2 separate regions of the Homo sapiens genome follow, and region 1 is linked to region 2. Evidence: fine-mapped expression QTL. A gene starts in region 2. The other region holds a variant in brackets. All regions are shown on one strand. Distances are between the middles of the regions.

Region 1 (4,259 bases), 31 kb after region 2:
AGATTGCACCATTGCACTCCAGCCTGGGCAACAAGAGTGAAACTCCGTCTCAATAATAATAATAAAGATGAATTATTAAGTGGCAGATGATAAGAGGGAGAGGAAGGGAGTGCAGGGAGAGAGGGAAAGGAAGGACTGAAAATATGGCCTATGTGTAACAGTAGGAAGATCATTGCTGGCCTTGGAGAAAGCAGTTCTCAACTCCTCCCTTCCTTTTCCCCACATCCCATTGATTTCCAGATTGGCCAGGAATGTAATCCATATTGCCATAGATCAAGGTGCTGGCTCTAAGGGGTGGGAACTGGTGGAGTTTGGCTGACAGGAAGATGATAGAAGAGGTAAAAAAGAGGAGGCAGGAGGAAAAGCAAATTTCCTGATGAGTAGGGCTAGAAAGGGGCATTGGCTGCCAGTGTGTAAGGAGCACTCATGAAAGAACCACGCGTGTCTTCAGCAGCTGTGTCTGTCAGCTCAGAGTGGAAGCATGTAGGTATTGTCATTTTTTGGTGAGTTTGGCCACAAAGCATTCTGGGAGTGCAGCGGTGGGTGGTTGAAGAAGGAGGAAGTGGAGATAGGCAAAGGATTATCCTTCCTATAAGGCTAGTGCATGGTGGGTGAGAGACTGACAGGATGCTGCTTAGGAGTCCAAAAGGTGTGGCCAGCTCCAGCTTGATTCAGAGCAGTGGTGGTATCCTGGAGCTCCTCTCCCAGAGCAGAGGATGGCAGGTGGCGCCTGGAGAGTGTGGCCTCCCAGCGAGGGAGCTGGCACAGGCTAGGATGGGACTTAGGTCAGCGGGGTGTCTTGGTGGAAGGCTGAGCACACGTGGTTCTCCAGCCGACCACGAGCATCTGATCATATTATCTCCCAGGACTGGGTCCTCCTGGAACCCTGTACACTGCAGAAACTCTTCAGTAGTTACAACAGGAACCTTTGAGCTGAGCACCCAGAAGTACCAGATGTGCTGGAGCAGGCTCCTGTATTTATACGTGGCAGCCAGTCTAGTATTGCTTTATAGCACCTTCTGTGTCTGTTCTTACATAACTTTTAATCTGTTCAGGCTGTTTGCCCATCTCTATTGTGATTCTTTGAGTTCAGGCTCCAAGGCTCACTCATCCTTGCCCTGCATATCAGACACTCCTGCAAATGCTCAGGGCTTAAAAATCTGCCGGGGCCACCACATTACACACTCCTATCCCCGTCTACGTTATTCCAGTTAAATTTTGTGAGTAGTTGACAAAATGCCCTACTGTTTCCTTTGGTTAAAAGCAATAGGTATTACAAAATTCAGTTGTTACATTGGAACTTGTCTGCAGCTGTTTGCATGTGAATATTGAATGAGGGAGTGGTAGCTTTTGTAATTGTTAGGGCAAAGAAAGATTCTGTTTCTAATCTGAGACAACCAGCTGACTCATCAAGTGCCTTGACCCTTTAGATTTCCATCTTTCTTTTTCCCCTAGGAAGATGGAAAACTGAGCTCCCAGGTTTACAGATAGCCCAGACCTGGCACTGTGGAACAAAAGAAAATGGTAGAAAAGATGAAAATCAAGGAAATGTTAGCAACTAATTTTTATTTCCTCTGACCATTTAAATGGGTATGAATTTACCTTCCACAAGGAAAACTTTTCAAATAATGGCTTTTTATAAAGGGTCTATTTTATGTGCGTGGTTCCCTTCCACCCCTAGGTGGCAGGAGAAAGCAGAAGAACCTGCATGAAAGTAAAGCAAACGTCCTGCAGCTGTGGGGCGGTGTTCTGAATCCTAGGATTGTTGCTTACCTCTGCCCTGCAGTTCCATTTGTCAGGCATTCCTGCG[AT/A]TTTTTTTTTTTTTCAGACCGACTTAGTTACCCATATATGGATTTTTAAAAATACTGACTTGGCTAGGATTTATAGAGCACTGTGTAGTCAGCTTTAACAGTTAAGAAATAAGCAAATCTTGATGTGGGGAAAAGAAGAACAGGAACATTAGAATTGGGGATTAGAGGTTGAGAAAATGGTCCTCCCTGGTGTCCAGTGGGTAATCTGCTGTTGAGAACTGATGCCCGTGGAGTTGCCCCAGGCAGGACGCCCAGGCCAGGGCACTTCACCTGGGCCCCTGGGGTTGGTGTGGAGAGTCAGGTGGCCTTTCTCTGCAGCCGGAGAAGCTAGCACAGGGGGCTCCCCGTCTCCTCTGAATCCTGTCTAAAGATAATAATGAGGGCTGTTACTTGGAACATTTTCTAATAACATGCTATAGATGCTTAGGGTTTATGGGAAGGGGGGATGGTACTGGGGGTGGGGGATAAAGGACAAAAACGTAATAAAGTAAACACAGGAAAGGAGCAGCATGTGTTTGGAAGCTGAGCATAGGCACTCCCTCTGAGCAGTGGAGTTGAGTCCTGACTGCAGCACATGCAGGTGAGGAAGCAGTAGAAGGAGTCCGTCTTCTGTCCCCTTCCCATCCCTTCTGACATGTTCTTATCTTGAAATCGCCGCCCCTGAACTCCCAGGGTACTTACTGTGTGCTGCTCTCACTCTGTAGCCCTGTCTGTGTATGTCCCATGTCCTGAAAGCCCACCCGAGGAGGAGCTGTCTTCTTTGTCTTTATGTTCCCCACAGCACTTGTCTCTGGCACAAGGCAGAATCTTAATAACTTCAGTGGCATGAATCCATCGAGGAGCAGATGGGAAGCAGAGTCACAGTGTCACACCAGACAGATTATGTTCAAGCAAATAGTCCCAATAAGAAGTAGTGAGGGGCCGGCCGGGCGCAGTGGCTCACACCTGTAATCCCAGCCCTTTGGGAGACTGAGGTGGGCAAATCACCTGAGGTCTGGAGTTCAAGACCAGTCTGACCAACATGGAGAAACCCCGTCTCTACTAAAAATACAAAATTAGCTGGGCATGGTGGCACATGCCTGTAATCCCAGCTACTCTGGAGGCTGAGGCAGGAGAATGGCTTGAACCCTGGAGGCGGAGGTTGCTGTGAGCCAAGATCACGCCATTGCACTCCAGCCTGGGCAACAAGAGCGAAACTCTGTCTCAAAAAAAAAAAAAGTGAGGGGCTGGGCACAGTGGCTCATGCCTGTAATCCCAGCACTTTGGGAGGCTGAGACGGGTGAATCACTTGAGGCCAGGAGTTTGTGACCAGCCTGGCCAACATGGTGAAACCCCGTCCCTACCAAAAAATACCGGAAGTTAGCCAGGCACAGTGGTGCACATCTGTAATCCCAGCTACTTGGGAGGTTGAGGCATGAGAATTGATTGAACTCAGGAGACGGAGGTTGCAGTTAGCTGAGATTGTGCCACCGCACTCCACCCAGCCTGGCGGCAGAGCAAGGCTCCATCTCAAAACATATATATATATATAATATATATATGTGTGTGTGTGTGTGTGTGTGTGTACTCTCTGGCATTTTTTTGTTGGCTCCATTCTTGGGCATACCGCCAGACGAGATGGCTGTGGGCAGCCTCATGCCTGTCTCCTGCAGAAAGAGGACTGCAGAAGCACTTTAGCTAGACATCAGTTCTGACTGGCCAGGTATAGGACCGTCAGGGAAAATGGAGGTGTGTCCCCAGAAATGGGAGTGTACACTATGCAAGCAGAACCCACTGGCGAGCATTGCAGGGACATCAGCCCTTGGCTTGTTACTGTCATAGCAGAGCAAATTCATATGTATCTTAAGTCATTCTTTTCAATGTTTTTCAGCATCTTCATGATACAGTTAAGAGGAATCTTGACAGCGCCACTTCCCCTCAGAATGGCGATCAACAGAATGGCTACGGGGACCTCTTTCCTGGGCATAAGAAGACTCGCCGGGAGGCCCCTCTGGGAGTTGCCATCTCTTCCAATGGACTGCCTCCAGCCTCCCCCCTCGGTCAGTCTGACAAGCCTTCTGGAGCCGACGCCCTGCAGTCCAGTGGGAAGCACTCTCTGGGGCTAGACTCTCTCAACAAAAAGCGTCTGGCTGACTCCAGCCTTCACTTGAATGGAGGCAGTAACCCCAGTGAGTCATTTCCTCTGAGCCTGAATAAAGAACTGAAGCAGGAGCCTGTCGAAGACCTGCCTTGCATGATCACTGGGACTGTCGGCTCCATATCGCAAAGCAACCTCATGCCAGACCTCAACCTTAACGAGCAGGAGTGGAAGGAGCTCATCGAGGAGCTGAACAGGTCGGTGCCCGATGAAGACATGAAGGACCTGTTTAATGAGGACTTCGAGGAGAAGAAGGACCCAGAGTCTTCTGGCTCTGCCACACAAACCCCCTTGGCACAGGACATTAATAT
Region 2 (4,236 bases):
ACTGAATTTCTTCATAGTAACCTTCAGTGTGTGTGTGTGACTATGTTCAATTAGTGGGTTGATCTTCGTATAATTGGCCACTATGTGAGAGTTCACTACTAGGCAGAAACTATTATGGACAGTGAAATAATGACTTTTATCTCACCACGTGAGTTTGATGCAGTCTTTTCTGTCTAGCCCTTGCCTCTTCCTGCCCATGTGATTGCGGTGCAGTAGTTTCTGTTGTATAATAGTGTGGACAGCAGCTCAGAAAAGGAGGGAATGCTACTGATAATTTGTAGATAATATTCTTTAAGACTTAGGGGAACCATTGAACTTTGAAATTTTTATTAGAAAATTATTTGTTCAGAATCAGACTCCATTATTTTACATATACTTAAATACTTTAGGGGTATTTTTGAAAGTTAGCCCAGTTTTTTATGTGCTATTAAATTTTTAGATTACATACTAAAGAAAAGTATGTACACAGAATGTAGTGCTCCTAGTTACTATTTTTTCTATTAAGAAATAGTTTAGTTCTGGTGTAAAATTTGTTTGAATGCTAAAAAAAAAAAAGCAGGACTGCATTATGGCACTTTTGCCTTGGTGGCCCACTTTCTCCATTTAAAACATTAGGATTTGTATTTTTCTGCTGCGTTTGTATGAAGACATATTTGATTGTTGTTTTCTCTTGATTTTAAAATAAAACCTCATGAGCCCTAGTAAAAAGCTAGAGTAACGAATGTTTGAACTACTGATGGTGTATCTCAATGTGCAGCCTCCTGCCACCTCCTGCTTAACCTTTTAGCAATTAGAGTGCCCATATCTAGAGTTCCTGATATCCTTTGGCATCACACTATCTAGTTTTAGTACTAACACTGTTTGATTGCTCCAGTCCCTCTACTCCCCTTTGCCTATTAGTTTTAATAATGGGGCATAATTTGTCTTGGTTTGGTTTTGTTGAGTAACTCAGTTTTACCTAAAGGACTGTTTTTGGTCCGGCGCGGCGGCTCACGCCTGTAATCGCGGTACTTTGGCAGGCCGAGGTGGGCGGATCACCTGAGGTCAGGAGTGGGAGACCAGCCTGACCGACATGGAGACACCCCGTCTCTACTAAAAATACAAAATTAGCCGCGCGTGGTGGCGCATGCCTGTAATCCCAGCTACTGGAGAGGCTGAGGCAGGAGAATCGCTTGAGCCTGGAAGGCGGTGGTTGTGGTGAAACGTCGTCCTTTGCATTTCCAGTTCCCTCTAATGGAGCTGCACTCTTGCATGCTTTTGCTCACATCTTCTGGACTTTTTTTTTAAGTAGTGAGTAATACTGCACTTTTGAAACTTGCTCGGGCTTTTACAAATAGGTGGAAACTACCAGTGATTCGGAATGTTGCAAGAGGAAACTACCAGCTCACTAGACGATTCTGACCAATTATGGGGCTGGATACAAGGAATAAGGTCAAAGTAAAACGGCTGACATTAAAATAGCGTGGCTACTTAGAGTTTATCAAAGTCGAAATTTAAAAAATAATTTAAAAAAAAGGTCTCTGTACTGCCAGGCGGGCGACAGGGACTGGCCAGCTGCGCCGCACTCGCCTGCCAGATTCCCCTTTTCTCGGGGTAGCCGGAAGGGCCTGCCTTCAGCGGGTGCTGTGCAGGAAACCAATAGCCGCCTCTTGGACGGGCTCCTGTCAGTCACGCTTAGCTCCGCCCCCAGGATTAAGGCCCGCCCAGGGGCTTCCCTCCGCCCTTCGCTTGAGAATTCCTTTTAAATACCGCTCTGGCGCCCGAGCGCGCCTCTTGCGTGCTCGTCCCCACGCCCTCGGGCGGCCGGTTCTTCCTTCTCTGATTGGCCAGGGCCCCTGCTCATCAGTCGTGATGCACAAGGTCTCTTACCGAGGCCCCGCCTTCTTCCGAGAGGCCCGAAAACAATTTTAAGATGGCGGCCGCGGCGGTAGCGCGGAAAACAATGGGGCCGGGGCGGTGGGGAGAGGCCGAGGCTTGAGGTAGGCAGCAAGCGCCGGCTGGGGGTCGGGCCGAGCGGGGCAGGAGGAAAACCCGCCGCCGCGCGCGAGCCCGCTCCGCTGCCCTCGGGGGCATGGCGCGGCCGTGAGGCGGAGAGGGGTAGCCGCGGGGAGCGAAGCCCGCAGTGCCAGCCGGCCCCGAGAGGCCCGGCCCCGGGCCCGGCCCGTGCAGCCCGCGGCCCATGGTGCTGCCCACCTGCCCCATGGCGGAGTTCGCGCTGCCGCGGCACAGCGCGGTCATGGAGCGCCTTCGCCGGCGCATCGAGCTGTGCCGGCGCCACCACAGCACCTGCGAGGCCCGCTACGAGGCCGTGTCGCCCGAGCGCCTGGAGCTGGAGCGCCAACACACCTTCGCCCTGCACCAGCGCTGCATCCAGGCCAAGGCCAAGCGCGCCGGGAAGCACAGGCAGCCGCCCGCCGCCACGGCCCCGGCGCCCGCCGCCCCGGCCCCGCGCCTGGACGCCGCTGACGGCCCCGAGCACGGCCGCCCGGCCACGGTGAGTAGGGCGCGGGAAGGCGCTTGTCGTGGCGGCAGCCCCCTCTCCCGAAAACGCTTCCTCTGACGCGGATCGGGCCGCTGGGAGACTTCCCCAGGCGTCCGCGACTCCTGGATCTGGCTGGAGAGAGGGTAACATGGCAGGGAGCTGAGAGGTTGTCATCTTTGGGAAGTGGCACGGTGGCGTTACTTTGGGAAAACAGCGCCTTGAGGGCCTTGCAGGAGGCCCGACCTGGGAAGGCTGGCGAACGCTAACCGGAGGGTTTTTCTTCCAGACTTGATTCCGGGATGTTGAGATCTTTATTCGAAATAGACTAGCATTCGAGTCGCCTGTGATGGAGGGAGTTCCTGCACCGTAGGCCTGGCCTCATTTATTCTGCAAATGTTTATTGGGTCCTTGCCCTTTACAAGATCCTGTGCTGTGAGCAGGATCAGGGCTTTCATGTGGAAATAAGTCGGCCTTTGGTTGACCAACTGAAACTCCTCTGAATGGAAAATCAAGAAATTTTTGGAAAACTTAGTAAAATGTTCAATGAGTTGCATATAAGTATTCCTTGTTTAGGTAGCCTGAACTTTGTGAACTTGAGATTCCTGCAATATTGTTGACAATTCTAGTTTTAATTTATCAGGCCTGTTTAAAATCTCTGATGATGTTAGATTGTTGGTCAATTATTACTCCCTTTGGGCTCTCAGTAAATGTTCCTGAAATTTGTTGGTTAGAGGTTTTTCTTCCTGAAACAGATTTACAAAAGAGACAAGGTTTTTCAGTGGTTTTCTTGGGGATTTTAGTTTAAAACCAATGTTAAAATCTAATTTGTTATGTGTATTTTTAAATTCATACCTTTATTATCTCTCACCTGGGCTATTGCAGTGCCTGTCCCTAGCTAACTAACCAGTCTGTAGGCATTTAGTTTCTTTCTCCCTTATTCTCGAAATGCTGGAAATCCTTCTCTTGCTTGAAAGGATGAAGTTCAAAGTCTTTAGTTTGGCATTTGGGACCAGTCTGACCTAACCTATCTTTTAATGTCCCTCACAGGTCCTCTGCTCTGGTTGAATTATTTTTCTCATTCTCTTCCACACTAGCCTCGATTGCTGGGTTAGAAGAAAAAAAACCACTCAGATTTCATTGCTTATTGTATCAACTGGTCAAGCCTTCTCATCTTCACTTTTCTCATCTGTAAACTAGGGGCATGTTGGGCTTATTATCGCCCCGTGTTCTTTCCCTGCCCTCCCCTCACTCTGTCGCCCAGGCTGGAGTGCAGAGGCACAGTCATGTCTCACTGCAGCCTCAACCTTCCTGGCTCAAGACTCCTCAATCCTCCCGCCTCAGCCTCCTCAGTCCTCCCGCCTCAGCCTCCTGAGTAACTGGGATCAACCACAGCTGCACATCACCATGCCTGGCTAAATAAAAAAAGTTTTTTTTCTGTTAGAGATGGGGTCTCACTATATTGCCTAGGCTGGTCTTGAACTCCTGGGCTCAAGTGATCCTTTCTTCCAACTTGATCTCTGAAAGTGCTGAGATTATAGGCATGAGCCACCGCACCGTGCCGCCCCCAGGATTCTTTTAAGAATAAAAAGAAATGAGTGTGGACATGAAAATACAGTATTTCGGGGGAAGGGATAGCATTGGGAGATATACCTAATGCTAGATGACGAGTTAGTGGGTGCAGCGCACCAGCATGGCACATGTATACGTATGTAACTAACCTGCACATTGTACACATGTACCCTAAAACTTAAAGT

The links. PIP is the estimated chance that this variant, and not a neighbour inherited with it, causes the effect. A credible set is the group of variants that fine-mapping cannot tell apart.
Region 1: its variant is the best candidate, but not a certain one, in a credible set for the expression of MAML1 in whole blood (INTERVAL, PIP 0.78).

What each region holds. Positions count from the first base shown.
Region 1 is chr5:179,761,645-179,765,903 of GRCh38, forward strand. MAML1 (mastermind like transcriptional coactivator 1) reads left to right here. Exons shown (of 5, transcript NM_014757.5): 2 at 3,682-4,259. Among named protein-coding and RNA genes, the nearest start is that of LTC4S, 30 kb to the right of the region's middle. The variant AT/A (reference allele first, on the strand shown) is at 1,811.
Region 2 is chr5:179,730,934-179,735,169 of GRCh38, forward strand. MAML1 (mastermind like transcriptional coactivator 1) reads left to right here and starts at 1,889. Exons shown (of 5, transcript NM_014757.5): 1 at 1,889-2,494. The coding sequence starts at 2,180. CANX (calnexin) reads left to right here. Exons shown (of 15, transcript NM_001746.4): 15 at 1-708. RefSeq lists enhancers at 1,432-1,531, 2,293-2,793 and silencers at 1,982-2,181, 2,422-2,481.